2 separate regions of the Homo sapiens genome follow, and region 1 is reported to be linked to region 2. Evidence: microRNA targets listed by miRTarBase, many of them from high-throughput screens and not tested one by one. Region 2 holds a microRNA gene; the other region holds the end of a gene's coding sequence.

Evidence for each region. Region 2 holds the annotated microRNA hsa-miR-448 (UUGCAUAUGUAGGAUGUCCCAU, at 4,338-4,359, opposite strand). A microRNA usually pairs through its seed, bases 2 to 8, with sites in the 3' UTR of a target mRNA and lowers its output. Matches are read on the target gene's strand: a 7mer-m8 pairs with bases 2 to 8, a 7mer-A1 pairs with bases 2 to 7 and ends in A, and an 8mer does both.
Region 1: the mRNA of FXR1 is a reported target of hsa-miR-448. Seed matches in the 3' UTR shown: 8mer at 6,762-6,769 and 7mer-A1 at 968-974.

The regions. Positions count from the first base shown.
Region 1 is chr3:180,975,710-180,983,429 of GRCh38, reverse strand. It overlaps FXR1 (FMR1 autosomal homolog 1), which reads right to left. Exons shown (of 17, transcript NM_005087.4): 17 at 677-7,308. The coding sequence ends at 7,138. Among named protein-coding and RNA genes, the nearest start is that of DNAJC19, 10 kb to the left of the region's middle.
Region 2 is chrX:114,819,368-114,827,882 of GRCh38, reverse strand. MIR448 (microRNA 448) reads right to left here and starts at 4,429; the gene lies at 4,319-4,429. The region is part of intron 4 of HTR2C (5-hydroxytryptamine receptor 2C); the gene reads right to left.

The DNA.
Region 1 (7,720 bases), not on the chromosome of region 2:
TACCCTCGTTTAAAATCTGATGGAGTCTGTTATGATTTAGTGTATGATGAAACACTAGCTTCTAAGGCTTTTATGCAGGATAAATTATTTCCAGGGACAAGGAGACATGAAAGTACAGCTGGTTCTTGTTTGTGGTAATTCTGTTCTTTAAGGTGGCTATGAACACTGAATTAGCAAATAAGGAACAAGTTCCTAAGAGAAATACAGATTCTGTGACCCTTTGGTCACAATATTGTCTGCCAGTCAGTATATAACCTTGATCGACCTGTTTCTGCTTGAAAACATTCTTTAGTATTTCATTAACTTTCAATTAACAGCCAACAGCACTATAACTAACTCATGCTTGGGACATCACGGCCTTCTTTGCATTTGGGAACACTAGGTAGCATGCTTCACTACTACTCTTAGGAACCATCTTAAAACAGCAAAATCACCAACAAAAAGCACAAACATGAAACTTGGCACTAAATAGACCACAAAAAGGATATCTGTTTATGGTGTGAGAGCTTAAACAAGGTAGAGCATTGCCTTGTGCACATAAAGTGGTTTAAATTTTTTGTCACTCTGCAAATACTCACAAATGACCAGAAAAGGATGTTGATTTTGGAGTTACAAATTTTAGTGAGTAGGCAAATTCACAGATAAGGAATTCTACTAATAATGAGGATCAACTGTATTTTGGTTTACTAACCTTTTATTTCAGTCCATTGGACAAATCAAAAAATGTTTCTCTGAACAAGAGCTTTATGAAGAAATAGTTGAGACTTAAAAGAAAATTTTTCAAAGACAGATAGTGATAATATGCCGACAGGCAATGAAGCATTAACTCTAAAAAGGGAAATTTAACTTAATAGGTATAAATACTTTTGAGGGTTCAGTGCAAACAACATACCCGTTTTAAGACAGGTGTTAAGACAATGGAAACCACTTAAAAATACCAAGGAGCACAGCAGAGCACATTTTTTTCTTGCATAGTAATCAGTTTTATTTTCTCCAGGCTTACCTTTTTTAAGTAGAAGAATCCGTGTTTCATTGAAGGCTATTAGGCAAACTGAACATTTAAATGTTATCCATGTGAGGGCTCTAGATCATGTAGGTGATTGATACAAATACGATCCATAAAAAAACTTTTATCTTTTGCTGGTATTTTCTTACAAAATACTTGGATCTGTAACATTTGAGTACTTACAGTGTACTAGCACTGTGCTAAGTATTCTTCCCTTATCTCAGTAGACTAGTTATTATGATGTACATTTTACATGTGAGGAAATGGAAGTTTAGTAAGGTTAAGCAGCCAAGGCAACATGCTGAGAATGGCTGATCTTTCTCAGATCCTGAGTTCCGTTCTCTTAACTTTTTGTACTATGGCCTTCACAATTCTGATAACCTAAGCATGTTTTCCTTGATAGTACTGAGATGTGAGTCTAGTACTTATCTCTACAGATCTAGCTTGGGGCCTTTGTCTTTACTCATTGGTGCTTCCAGATATATTTTAAAGAAGGCGGCATGATTAAACACACTTTGGGAATGAGAGGTAGGTTACAAGTTAAACTTCTGCAGAAGCCAGGTAAACAGAAGCCAGGTAAATCTGAGCCTCGAGGCTTCAGCTTTCTCTGTAAAAGGGAAATATACATGACCAACTTGAAATTGTGAAGATTCTTCCACATTTTATGGCTTGGGAAACAAAAGTCCAGAGCAAATGGTCTTTTTTCTAAGGTCCCACGGCTAGTGAAACTAAAATTAGGTCCTTGGTGTCTTCTCCAATTTGCTGTTCATATTAGTCCTCATTAGAAGTTTGTGGGGAATTCCTATCTATAGCCTTCACATTAGACCTCAATATCAGAGATTTTTGTGAGTCACTTAGCCTCTTCCCTTGCCTTTACTGGCCATCTGGGTTGACATTAGAAATGAGTCCTAAGGTGCTGTATAAAAACTGCTTTGTTGGTAAGAAGTGAGCTATAATGGGTTGTCCTGGAAGTTAACTCTTTCTCCACCTTTAGTTTTAAGCAAGTTCTCCTGCCATCAAGTATTTTCCAAATGATGAGAGTACTTACGGAAACATTTAAATGGAAAACCAATGAGAACTGAGAAAAATTAGGGAACTAGCTTCTTAATATATTGCCACACTGAAAGCTGTATAAATTCAGTATACTGAATATGTATGCCCCCCCGTAAAGAAAACCTAGTATCAGAAATGTCTAAAAATAAAATTTCACGCAGGCATAATGCTTCATTTAAAGGGTTAGAGGGGTTTTAGGTTAGAATGCAGAGTTCTGTTTCAATCATGAGAAATTCTATAAGGCATCTTTCTGTTGACAGTGACCTAAAAAAAAGGTTTTGCAGTTCAGAAGCTTGTAGTAGGTTCACATTGAGTGCACAAGAACCTCCAAACATGTTAAATCTGATGAAAATTTAGAACATGAATCAACAATGTCAAAGAACAGACTAAGCTTAAAAAAACAAAACCCTGTAAATTTTATGTAAACAAAGTAAAAAAAAAATTACAATGTAGAATGCTCTCCTAGGTTTTTGGTTATGTAAAGTATCCTGGAATGAGTAACCTTGAGTACCAGTTAACTTGAATGACCTAAGCTCTGGTTTTAGTTTTTGGACTGCTGTACAGTGTGCTGTTTATCAGCTTAGAGCCAACTACTGCCTTAGCAACAAGATATATATAGGAAGAGCTTCTATCCTGTGTCACCTATTATTCCTGACCCAATAATAGAACAGTCCAATGATATGGGATAATCTGTTATGGTTAACATTTGCTAACACCTTACAGCAGTTTCAGTTAATGAAATTTCAAATATATGTTTACATTTTTCTTTACAACCTGAAGACAGCCAAGTTAGCTGAAAAAGGAAGCCTAGAGGTTGAAATGTAAGCAACCAAGCAACAATTAAGTATAAATTGTTTATCTAGAAAAACTATTGGAAAATATTTTTAATGAAAATGGTCTCTAAAACTAGAAAATTAATATGTACATTTTACAGTTAATCCAATTAAGAGGGTACAAAGGGGTAAAAAAACTTTCCCAAAAAAAAAGAACATCCCAATCACTGAAATACAAAGAAATTCAAGAAGCTAATTAGTAGCATACTTAATAGTGGGGCTGTAAGACTTGTGAAAAATTACTTTGTCCTTGTTTGGAATATCTTATAGATTGCATTCAGCATAGTTGAAAATGTCTGGGATGGATACATATGTAAAACAAACACCACTTAAATTCAGCATACTCCTTATGAGAATACTTGGGCATTTGGTTAGGTGTTGCTCAGGGTCTGACATGTGACTAGACTCAAATTACTACTGGAAGGGCCTTAAAGATACCAACTAGGCCAGCCCTCTCTGGTTGGATAAAATTGAAACCATAGAGAAAAAGTTAATAGAGCTAAAATAGCAGCTTCTAATTCTGTACCATTACCTAAAGCATCTTTTTGAATTATCAAAGGAAGAAATAAGCAAATGGACTGTGGGAAATCATCTTACAAAACTAGAATATAGTTTTTCCAGGGGAATTTTTGTGTACCTTACCTCAGTACTGGAAATAATATTACAGAAGATACAGATGAATCTGAAATGATACACTGATAAACTTTTTAAAAATTTGTAATTAGACTGAACCATAAGAAACTGTTAATAGTTGATCATTTTTGAGCCTTACAAAAGTGGTAATTTCCTACTGTTCAGTGTAATGGACTTAAATCAGTTTTAACACCACTTGCTAACAGTCTGACTTTAGCAGATTGCAGTTACTGCTTTATTGCAAAAGCTCCTGAAATAAAACCCAAATACTATCAGAGATTAACATGGGTTATGAGCAACTACAGTCCATTCAAGTACACGTTCTAATAAAGAACTAAAATTAAAAAAAAAAATAAGGGGCTAGCAAATTCACTATAGCAGACAGATATTCTTAACGAAAAAGCGTAAGGGATCCAAATCGTGTAGCAAAGACAGGAAGACTGAGACAGTAACAAACATCCTTTTCTTTGAGATTTTTTGCCAAAACAGTAGATTCACAGTTCAAATCCAAGTTCCTTGAAACTTTACAGAAGAAAATCCAGGTGTAATTTTCCTTTACTGTAATTCTTAACCACCAATCATCTGTCCCTGGACATAGCCTGTTTTCCATGTTTATCTGTCCTTAGGCAACAGCCCATGAGAACACTAGTTGGTTTGAGCCTCAAAAGCGTAAATCTGTTTGCAGAGGATACAAATGGTGCTGTTTCCCAGTCCAAGATTTAGTTAACATACCAACTTCTATAAGACCCTCCTTAGGTTACAAAACGCTAGACACAGCTAACAGCAGCTACAAAAATACGTGACTTAGCACAACAGCAATGGAACCCAGCATCATCTCAGGTAAGTTTCTGTGAACTCACCAGTTTGATGTGCTGCTTCTAATTCCACATTAAAATACAAGATTATTTCAAAATAAAGATTTGTGTATTCCTATTACACTTTTGCCAATTATTTCTGAAGTGTTACCAGAGACACCATTTTGCACAAGTTGTAGCCCCCTTTAAGGCTTAACAAAGGTGATGCCTAAAGCAAGAATCCTAGGCCTCCCAAAGCTTCAGGAAAAGCAGGTCATTTTTGCCACCATATAATCTCAGCTGTTACTTCATGATTCCGTTCAGGTGTCATATATGAATTCACATATATATGCTGAAACATTGTTGCAACTGCACAAGATCTTCCAGAATACCTTTTTTTCCTTCTCTTTAAAGAGGGTCTCAGTGGCCCAGAACTGAGTTCAAATGATGCTCCCACCTCAGGCTCCTGAGTAGCTAGAACCAAAGACATAAGCTACTGTGCCAGGCTCCAGAATACATCTTTTGCTTAAGTGTCTGTTTAGTGTATAGTGGCAAGTTCTTCCCATAGCAACATCTCACCTAACTAGGATAGCAGCCAAAAAGACGGAACCCTCTCAAATACATTTAAAAGGCTACCTGAATTAATGGCTACCCTTTGGGGAGTGGGGCTCTCTAAAAAAACAAATGCGTATTTATCACAATTCTGCACTACCTATATTTTTTAAAGGACAAGACATTGGGTTTAGTCATTTGTAAAGTAATGAACTTAGTGTGGTTATTGCTAGAATGAAGAATTGGTTCAGCTATACTCACTCTTTTAAGATTTTGTTTCTTCCATTCCCATTGAAACCATCTTTATGGAAAAGGGATGTTTAATATATCTGACTATTCTATGTGGGAGAAAATGAAAAGTCTTTTTTTTTTTTTTTACACCATATTTACCAATTTGGCATTAATTAAAATTCTTCTAATACCTTATAATTTTTAACCCAATTATGTAAGAGAACTGAGACAATTTAACCTGTTGCTAGCTTTGATCGATTTAAAAAAACACATTTGTGGGTAATTTTTTTAAATATCAGGACATGAAATTACTTGATATCTTTATATATAAAGGACAGGAGTTGCACTACTCACACCTTACTTTAAAATTCTGTTACCAAGAACCAATCAGAAGGCCTCAGGAAAAAGCACGTAATACCAGCACATTTTAACCTTAATCAGAATAATTTGAGGGCTAGGGTTATATATACTGAACTGGCACATTGTACATTTTTAACTATACCCTGAATTATCCTTCAGAGCATATAAATTAAAATCACATTTTTATGCACATAAAAAATTAACACAAACTATGCACACAACACTTTTCATATGCCAAGTGATAACAAAGGGCTGTCATTCTTGTTCAGTGGTCCATATAATATTGTGGAACAAAGCCTTCCCCTATGTCTAACAATTACTTGACCTCACAATTAGCTGTACTAACTGTTGTCCATTGTTAAACTTCATGTCTTTATCTTCATAAAAATTAAGCTCTGGCTAAAATATATACATAAAGTTTAATAACTGATTTTTGGTCACTGATATGAGAGCCTTCAAAATAAGTTGAGAATGAATAAAGCAAATCATTGGCCTATTATTTAAAAATTGCTTGTCATCCCTTCTATCCCCCATTGTCTTCCAAAGTTGCCTTTGATTAGAATTTTGTTAGGTTTTTTTGCTAATTATCACATGTATTATTAATTACCTATGCATCTAACAGCCTAAACTTGTGTAAAGATTTCAGATGATTCATTACAAAATGATTAAATGGCCAACTGACATTTTAATGCTATTTATGAGCAAGTATAAATGCTTTTTAAAAAGCAAAGTATACTATCCTAAGCCTATTAATAGCTCCAACTATTTTGCAACAATTGGTGTAAAAAGTAGAAAGTTAAAAAAATTCAGCAAATGGAAGATCAAAGTTTATTTACTACCTGCATACAAAAACATATTGCACATCAAACAACCGAAATAAAAAAAAAAAAAAGGAAAAAAAAAAGATACTCTACTGAAGACTAACATGTAGTTTATACAGAATAAACCTTCTGGAAATTGATCTTTTCAGTAGTTCAGGTTATGTCTGAATGGACATGACTAATTCAGCTTAGTGTTTTAACTAAAGCTATGTTTGATTTTTAAATACTGTACACTTTAATAAATAAACCAAACAAAGCCTCAAGGTAGAACAGTCACTGCCAAGTATCGCCCAGTGTCCCTGCAGATGAGAGTTTAACAAATGTATTCCAGTGGTCTGCAGATTTTCCTCTACATACAGCATTTAAAAAACACATTAAAACAGACCAGTTTCCAGACTAAACTAATGAAGAAATTACAATTCAGTGCAAAATATTTTAGACTGCATTTCATTCTAGTTTTCCTCAGGTGAAGAAGTGGTTGCATATTAAAAATGTAACAAAAGCAGCTAATGCTTTCATAAAGAATATTACGTTAGGGATCCCACCCCACCCACCACCCCCCATCTCTGCCATATTTTGAAAACAAAATAACATTTCCTATAGCCAGCAACTTTTTTTTAATGTTACATATACTATTCTCAAGGCACATCTGATGATATATTTTATAACACAGTAGGTGTCAAAGTATGTTTAACATATGATTTCTTCAGGATCCCTCCCCTTTTTGAATTCCAAATGGAGGAACTGAAAGTGCGATGTAAAGACTGGCGATCCATATTCTATCTTTGGCAAGCTTGTACAAGCACTATTGTAAATGTAATGTAAAAGAACTGTAAACTAGGAACTTCTTCAGTTTATGAAACACCATTCAGGACTGCTGCTTCTTGAGTGTTTTCTTCTTTTAAGGTATTAATCTTTTCTTCTCCTGGAGTACGCTGTAGCTTAGAAATGTCATCGCCAGAAGCACTAGTTGGGCCGTTTATTGCCTTTTCTGAAGGACCATGCTCTTCAATCACATCTTTTGCCTGCCAAAGGGAGACAACTTTTTCAACTTCTTTATAAATGAAATCTATAGCTGAGGAGGAAAACAGCTACATAAACACTAATTAGCTAATTAAAAATTTCAGTTTTATATACCACAATGGATCAAAGTATTAAAACATCTTTAAAATTCAAAACAAATAACAAAGTATTCCACTCTATGGGTCTTTCAACTTTGTATCTCTAGTACCTAGCAGTGCCCAAACCACAGAAAACATCTAAACTAATGAAAACTGTACCTAATTTTAAAACACTGGAAAGCTCACCATGAAAATGACATAAACAGTTAATATTAAACAAATAATCACCTACTTTACTCACCTTATTTTGAGAAATCACATTTACATATCAAATACTGTAAAGCATTTAAAAGAACTAAAATTTAAAAGGTCTATA
Region 2 (8,515 bases):
AGACAAAAACATTGAAAGTTGCATATCTTCAGATTTTGCATCAGAAACCATGAAAACCAGAAGGTAGTGTAACCACAAATTTAAAAGCCTGAAAGAAAGGAGCTATCAATTCAAAATTCCATATCCAGTGGAAATATATTTCACAAATGAATGTGAAATAAAGAGATTCTCAGGTGAAGGGAAACTAGGAACTCATTGCTCTAAAACAAGTCTCTCTAAACTAGGAGACTTGGTCTAAAAATGTTAAAGGATGTTTTTCAGGCAGAAGGAAATTACACTAAAGGAAAACACTAAAGGAAATTACACTAAAGGAAAATTACACTAAAGGAAAACATCAGGAACAAAGGAAGAACAACAGAAACGGTAAATATCTTAGAAAATATAATAATTTTTCTTAAGTCTTTAAAATACATATGATTCTCAGAAGCAAAAATTTTGTAACATTGTCTGATAAGGTTCTCAATGCATGTAGATGTAATCCATATTACAACTAAGACCAAAAAAAGGAGGATAAAGGAGCATATATGGTTTTATCTTTCACTTGATGTGATAAAATATTAAGGGTAAGAAACTTGGAAAAAATATGTATATATAGGTTGAATATTTCTAATCTGAAAACCTGAAATCCCAAATTCTCCAAAATCTAAACTTTTTGAGCACTGAGATAATGCTTAAGGGAAATACTCATTGGAGCAGTTTGGATTTTGGAATTTTGGATTAGGGATGCTGAACTGTTAACTATAATGAAAATATTCCAAAATCTAATAAAATTCAAAATCCAAAGCATTGTGGTCCCAAGAATTTTGGATAAGGGATACTTATAATATACAGGTATATTTTAATTCAGAGCATTGTCACTTAACAAACAAAAAAACTGTACAAAGAAATATAGTAAAAAAGCCAATAGATCAATAAAATTGAAATACTCAAATAAAAAGAAAAAAACATAATAAATCAGAATTAGGAAACAAAAGAATGTTTCCCATTCCTATAGGAAATAAAAGAGTGGAAAAGACAAGGGATAAATAGAAAACAAAACACGGTAGACATAAGTCCAAACAAATCAATAATTGCATTAAATCTAAATGGTATAAACACACCAATTCAAGGAAAGAGATAGCGATTTTGGATTAAAATTGAGAATAAAAATAAACAAGACACAATTATATGCTGTCTATAAGAAACTCTACAAATTTAAATTTAATAATATAGATAGTTGTACAAGCTGAGCATCCTTTATCTGAAATGCCTGGGATTAGAAGAGTCTCAGATTTTGGACATTTTGATATTTTGGAATATTTGCATATACATAATAAGACATGTTGGGGATGGAACTCAAGTCTACACGTGAAATTCATTTATTTTTTGGCCTGAAGTTAATTTTATGCAATATTGCAAATAATTTTGTGCATGAAACAAAGTTTTGATGGCATTTTGACTGTGACCAGTCACATGAGGTCAGCTGAGAAATTTTCTACTTGTGGCACCATATAGATGTTCAAAAAGCTTTGTATTTTGGCTGGTCATGGTGGCTCATGCCTGTAATCTCAGCACTTTGGGAGGCTGAGGTGGGAGGATCACTTGAACCCAGGAGACCAGCCTGGGAAACATAGGGAGATCCTGTCTCTACAAATACTTTAAAAACTTAGCCCGGCATCGTGGCATACACCTGTGGTCCCAGCTACTCAGGAGGCTGAGGCAGGAGGATCACCTGAGCCTAGGAGTTTGAGGCTGCATGATTGTGCCATGGCCCTCCAGACTGGGCAACAAAGAAAAACCCTGTCTCAAAAAAAAAAAAAAAGTTTTTGATTTTGGATTATTTCAGATTTCAGATTTTGGGACTAGAGATGCTCAACCTGTATAATAAAAGTATGGATAAAAGATATACTGTGCAAACACTAATTAAACAAATGCTAGAATTTTTATATTAATAACAGATAAAGTAAATTGCAGATCATCGGATATCACCAGAGGTAACACAGACCATTTTATAATGATAAAGGTGTCAATTCATCGAGGGAATATAACAGTCCTAAACGTTTATAATACATTTAAAATATAATAACATTTAAAATATAATAACAGGGCTTCAAAATTCATGAAGCACAACAATGGTAGAGCAGAAAGAAGAAATCAAAAGTAGAATTACAATTACACTTCAAGATTTCAACACCCCTTCCTCAGTTAATTGACAGAAAAGCATACAGAAAATTATCACTGAGGTAAAAGAACTGAACAGCATTACCAACAAACTTGACCTAATTGACATTGATAAAACATACCACCTGACAACAGGAAAGTACACATTCTTTTCAAGAACTATGGAAAATTGACCAGGAAAGACCATATTCTGGCTCATAAAATATACCTGAAGAAATTAAAATGGTTGCAATCAAACAACGTGTGTTGTCTGAGTATAACAGAATTAACCTGAAAACAAATAAAACAGATATCTTGAAAATGTTCAAATATTTGCAAATTAAATAACACAATTCTAAATAATTCATGTTTCAAAAGGAAAAGGCAAATGAAGTTAAAAAATAATTTGAAGTAAATTAAAATGAAAACAAAACGTACTAAAATTTGTCTGATGGTGCTAAAGTAGTACTCAAAGGGAATTTTCTAACGTTAATGGTTTATTTTAGAAAAGAAAACTCAAATCCATGATCTAAGCTTCCAAAATTAAAGTGCTAGGCAAAAAAGGAAAAATGAAATCCAAGTACCAGAAGAAATAAATAAATATAAAAGCAGAAATCAATAAAATTTAGGCAATACTATAATATTGAGAATTCAATGAAATAAAATGCTGCACTTTATTGGGAATAGATCAATAAAACTGATAAACCTCTCAACAGATCGACTAAGAATTAAAGGTAGAAGCCACACATTATCAATTATCAGTGATCAAAGAGGTGATATCTCTATAGACTCTACAGAAATTACATGGGTATTATACATAACAGTATGCTCATACATTTGCATGGAACTTTGGGGTCCTTGTATATGAAACCATACGTTTTTTGAACTATTCACTAAGCCCCTAATTCCAATGGAGAGTCTGTGCTGCTGAGGAAAATAAAGAGATATAAATGCTCTAAATCCCAAACCCTAAATCAGCCTGTTTTTCAGCCTAAGATTGGCCCACTTACCATCCACTGTGAAGAATGCCAAAGCCAGGATGGTTGACTAGAAACTCATCCCAGATTCGAATGCATAGCAAATCAACATTTTTTAGAACCCCAAAGTCTTTGGAGATGGCCTGTTTAACTTGACCCTAATTTAAAGTCAGTGGAAAACTCGATAGCATCCCAGGATACAACTCAAGTTTGTGCTGTTGACATAATTGATTCTCTGCCAGTAGCATCTCCTACAGATTAGTCATTTTCATATAAAGATCCATAGTGAAATTTCAGCAGTCTAAAGTGAAAATGGAAAATTATGTATAACAGCCAATTATTTATAAAGCTAAATATATTCCATTTAAATGGCTTATTTCTATTCTGAGATTATATCCTTCCTGTACCAATCCAGAAGTAGAAGGGCCGCTAGGATTGGCTGGATTTTGCATTACTTTTAATCCTGCCCTATGTTTTTAAGAGCTGGGCCCTGCTCTCGATATTTCCTATCACCTTGCTTTTGACAGAATTCCCTGGATATGATTGGATACTGCAGCTGACAGAAATTATATCTCTGAAATATTTGTAGGGACATGCCGCTAACTTTCTCCCTTTGCAATCACACCTACTTCCTTGTAACTTGATTCTTGCCTCAAAGTGTAATAGACTGTTTCTGCTCAATTTAGAATTGTTAGTTCTTCTCTGGAATACTCCTCCCAAATATCCTTCTTCTGACTTTGAGACATATTTTTTAATTTACTATCTTACCTTGACCCTCAGACTTGAAATTCTAGGCTGCTTTTCAGGATATAATCTTTGTTTTTTTCTATAATTAAGAATTAGATTCTCTCTACCTCTAGGTATTTGGCTCTGGCTAGCCTAAATAAATATGCCCAACTATTGAATCTCCCTAATTCGGTGTAGCTCTGAGAGTAGGTGGCACAATTCTGGAGGCATTATCTGTGTGGCCAGTGTTGTTGCTAATATGGTTTAATGCAGATCTACTGGCCCTGAGCTTAAAGATCCACTCACATACCCACTGCCTCTTATGAGCCAAGGTCATAGCAGTCAGTACTCTACCCTCCTCTAAATACATTTGTCAGAATGCCTTTCTAGTGATGCAGCTCTAGCATCTGTGTTTCCATGACACGCAGATTTTATTGTTCTTCAGTGAAGCAGAGTGGTGTTTCTGGTGTCTGTCATGACGAAGTGGGCTGGGAGATGGGACATCCTACATATGCAACCAGCCAGCCCCCTCTTATATGAAATAGGGATTTCCTGGCAGCACTATGCAGGATGTTCAACCTCCCGGCCCATGCGAAGATGAACTGCTGCACCATGAAGTTCCAGTTTCTGCTGAAAGGCTTGACATTGATTGATGCTTCTCTGTGTAAATGCTGTCATGAAAGCCTCTTCTGGCCTGGTGGTCTTTTCCTGATGAACTGGTTGTGATTACAAGTAGCCTAAATGATCCAAAAGCTTGTCAACCAATAACTCATCTCTTACTTGAACTTAAACCCCTTATCTCAAAAATATCATTTCCCACCAATTAAATAAAAGGAGAAAAATCTCCTGACACTTATAGGTACCAAGATATTTTCTGGGTTACAAACACTGCCCAGCTCCACTTCCAATTTAGTCAACCTGTATTACCTGCTTCTAAATCATATAAACAGACTTCTTACATGACAGTAGAGGAATTCTATGGCTGGAAGACCCCAGATGGGCTGCACACACTTTTTACCAAAGCTATCCCAGATGTATCACAATTTAGTTGCCAAAAACACAGGCCTAGAAGCATCATGAGATCCTAGGCTCTGCGGCTCTGCAATGTGACCACCACATTACAAAATAAAGAAACTTAGCTAAGGACAAATTCAATCAGCCCTGTTCATTTAGCTTAGCAAATTCTGCATTATGTACTTGCTCATCTCAAGTCTCTCAGCACCAAGAACTTTCCTATCTGCAAAATTTTGTGAGCCTACAATTTCATCAGGACCTGACACCTGAGAGGTTCAATACAATCTACAATATCTTCAAACAAACAAACAAACAAACCCTAGATTTTCTCTTCTGAGATAGTCTCACAACCCATCTTTCCTGGAATTTTTTATGTAATTTCCAATTGAGCTACCTCCTTTCAAGCTGATCTCAAAACTTTACCTATGAGTGCATGGAAAAGACTTCCATTTCTCTGTTGATATTTTCTTCAGAGTTGAATGGAAGACAACTTTATTAAATGATTCTCTATTTCTTCTATTGTATGGATCTTGAGTGGTGGAAAAGGGATAAGGACAAAGAAGCAATCATGAATTCTTGCCTAAGCAAGAATATAATAATGAGGACTTCTGCTGATTTGTACTATGTGACTCTATCCTCTCAGTAGTGGGGAAAAAGAAATGAGTAGGTAAGAGAATAAGATATAATTGTGGCTTTAACTTTATGACTCTAGATTTTCTGGTTTGGATTTTGGCTTTACTTTATCACATTAAGCATACCTTTAATCTGGTATTTTATTTACAAGAGAACAAAAGTAAAATCTCTTTGACTATGTCATTAATGTAGAGTGATTTCTAAGTCAATAGAAAAAAATATAATTTTTTAAAAGTATATTTAATCTTGCCAGGCATGTTGGCTCACGCCTATAATCCCAGCACTTTAGGAGGCCAAAGTGGGTGGATCACCTGAGGTCAGGAGTTCGAGACCAGCCTGGCCAACATGGCGAAACCCCATCTCTACTAAAAATACAAAAATTATCTAGGGGTGATGTTGCGTGCCTGTAAGCCCAGCTACTTGGGAGGCTGAGGTAGGAGTAAGCCAAAATCGTGCCACTGCACTCCAGCCTCAGAGACAGAGTGAGACTCCATCTCAAAAAAAAAAAAAAAAAAGGATATTTAGTCTTTATAATTTGTTTAGTCTTGATGACACTAGCAGGATTAACATTTGCTAACTCTCCTAGGTGCTTCAGTGATAAACAACATGGCCATGCTATCATTCTAATGTTCACTAAAAACTAAAGTAAACTGTAAAATATATTTTTGAATACTGCTTTTTATAGTAATCTTCTTAATAACTAATGACATATTCAGAAATATTAAAATGCAGATTTCTTTAAAATTAAATATACATCTAAATAATGTATGGCTTATTCATGGCCAAGTAATTAATCATTAAAAGTTGTAGGCCAGTGTTTCTAACTTTCGCTGTGACTCACTAATTTACCATGGAATTTGATGGGATACATTATTTTCTACAATATATTTTAAGCCAAAGATATAGGATATAACCTATAAAATCAATTTCCTTTTTATCTTAAAATTATATATTAATATGTACCAAACAATTATTAAAATCTAAATTTACAGCTACAGATACTAGTATGAACAATATGCTGTCAGGTACTAGGCAGATTTCTTAAAGCATCATGTAGCAATCATGCTTTTAGACCGCTCAAAGTAGCATTAGTTCAAAGAGACACCATCTACAGCTTTTAGTTAGATCACCTTACTAACTGCTGTTTGTGATCTGATAGTCTGTACGTACTCATATCTGCTTTCTCTAGTTAGTGAATTTCTTGTTTACTGTTAGTAATAATCCAAGGCTTGAAAAAACATCTCCAAGTGTACAACCAAGTGTTTGACTATGGATGCCCCCAGGATCTCCCTTCTTTCATATCATAGGTTGAAAATGATTCTTATTCACTACTTTTCATATGCCCAAGTTGCAAAACATCCCCACGTTTTACTGTGCTATGCTTTTAATTGATTCTCTATTCAAACAGTTCACTCTGCAGAATAATGATAATAGATTAAAAGTGACTGTGAAATTTTAATTAACAGAAAAGAGAAACTCCTGAGGGTTCTAAGGGGAACCAGAAAGTGATATTGATATACAACTTCACAGCTGTGTTAGGCCGTTTTCATGCTACTGCTAAAGACATACCCGAGACTGGGAAGTAAAAGAGGTTGAATTGGACTTATAGTTCCACATGGCTGGGGAGGCCTCAGAATCATGACAGGAGGCAAAAGGCCCTTCTTACATGGCAGCAGCAAGAGAAAATGAGGAAGAAGCAAAAGCGGAAACCCCTAATAAACTCATGAGATCTCATGAGACTTATTCACTATCACAAGAAAGACTGGGCCCCATGATTCAATTACCTCCCCCTGGGTCCCTCCCATAACACGTGGGAATTCTGGGAGATACAATTCAAGTTGAGATTTGGGTGGGGACACAGCCAAACCATATCAATAGCTAAACACTGTATATATAAAGCTGTGTTCTCTATATATCAGTCATGTATATATGACTGATAAATTGTGGTTTAAAATTAAATTATTGCCATTTTTTAAGATTTCCCTAAAAGTTTTTCAAATTTACTTTTTTAAACAAAGGACAGTGTGTTTCAGGGGTCCAATATTAAAGTAATGTAAACTAAAAAAAACTCCTACCCCCTTCTTCATGATGTGACTATTATACATTCCATTCCTGTATCAAAACATTTCATGTACCCCATAATATTTATTTATAATATTTTATAATATTTATATATCTACTATGTACCCCAAAGAAAACAAAGTTAAAAATTTTAAAATTTAAAAATAAAATCCTATGCCCCCCACTGAAAGAACAGACCCTCTCTTGGCAAAGGGGAACGCAGAAAATCCTTAAAACTGAGTTCCCAGCCATGACAGAATGGAAGGTCAGACACACCTTGTTACACCCCCTCCATTTTGTGGTTTGGACAGAACAACTGACCAGCATTAATGTTAAAATAGAGATTAAAAGGCTGACAGAACAGACTCTATGTGACAATAAGATATTAGATTATAAACATTATCTAAGGACATGCCAGGCAAAGGTTAAATCACACATTCCTGCACTTAAAGAATAAACTATGTTCTAACTGTCACAAGGATTTTCTTTTTCTCTAGCAGCTAAACAAGCACTGGTCTCAAAACAAGTGATATTAAAACAATTTTCAGTTCCACCAGCTGCTGACTAGGCTGATCCTCAGCCCGTGTTCCACAAGCTATAACTACAGCTCTGACTGGACAAGAGACTGATTTCATTAGCTTTCTCCAGATAAGACCACTGACTATGAACTGGTTCTGGCTGGCTTACGGAGATTGTGCACTTGTGCACCTTCATGTCCTGAAAAGACCTTTTGATATAGAGGGCCTAATTGTAATACATGTAAAAGTTAAGTCTTCATCCCAAAGTAAACATGGGTCATATGTTATATGCATGTGTATTCAATATGCATGTGTCACAACCCCTTTCATGAATATTCACAGATCATCCTGTAATCTGCTGAATATGTATGTTTAGCTAACCTGTTCATCATAAAGCACCTACCCCCACACCTCCTCCTTCCAAATGCTGTAACCCTTTATAAGAAA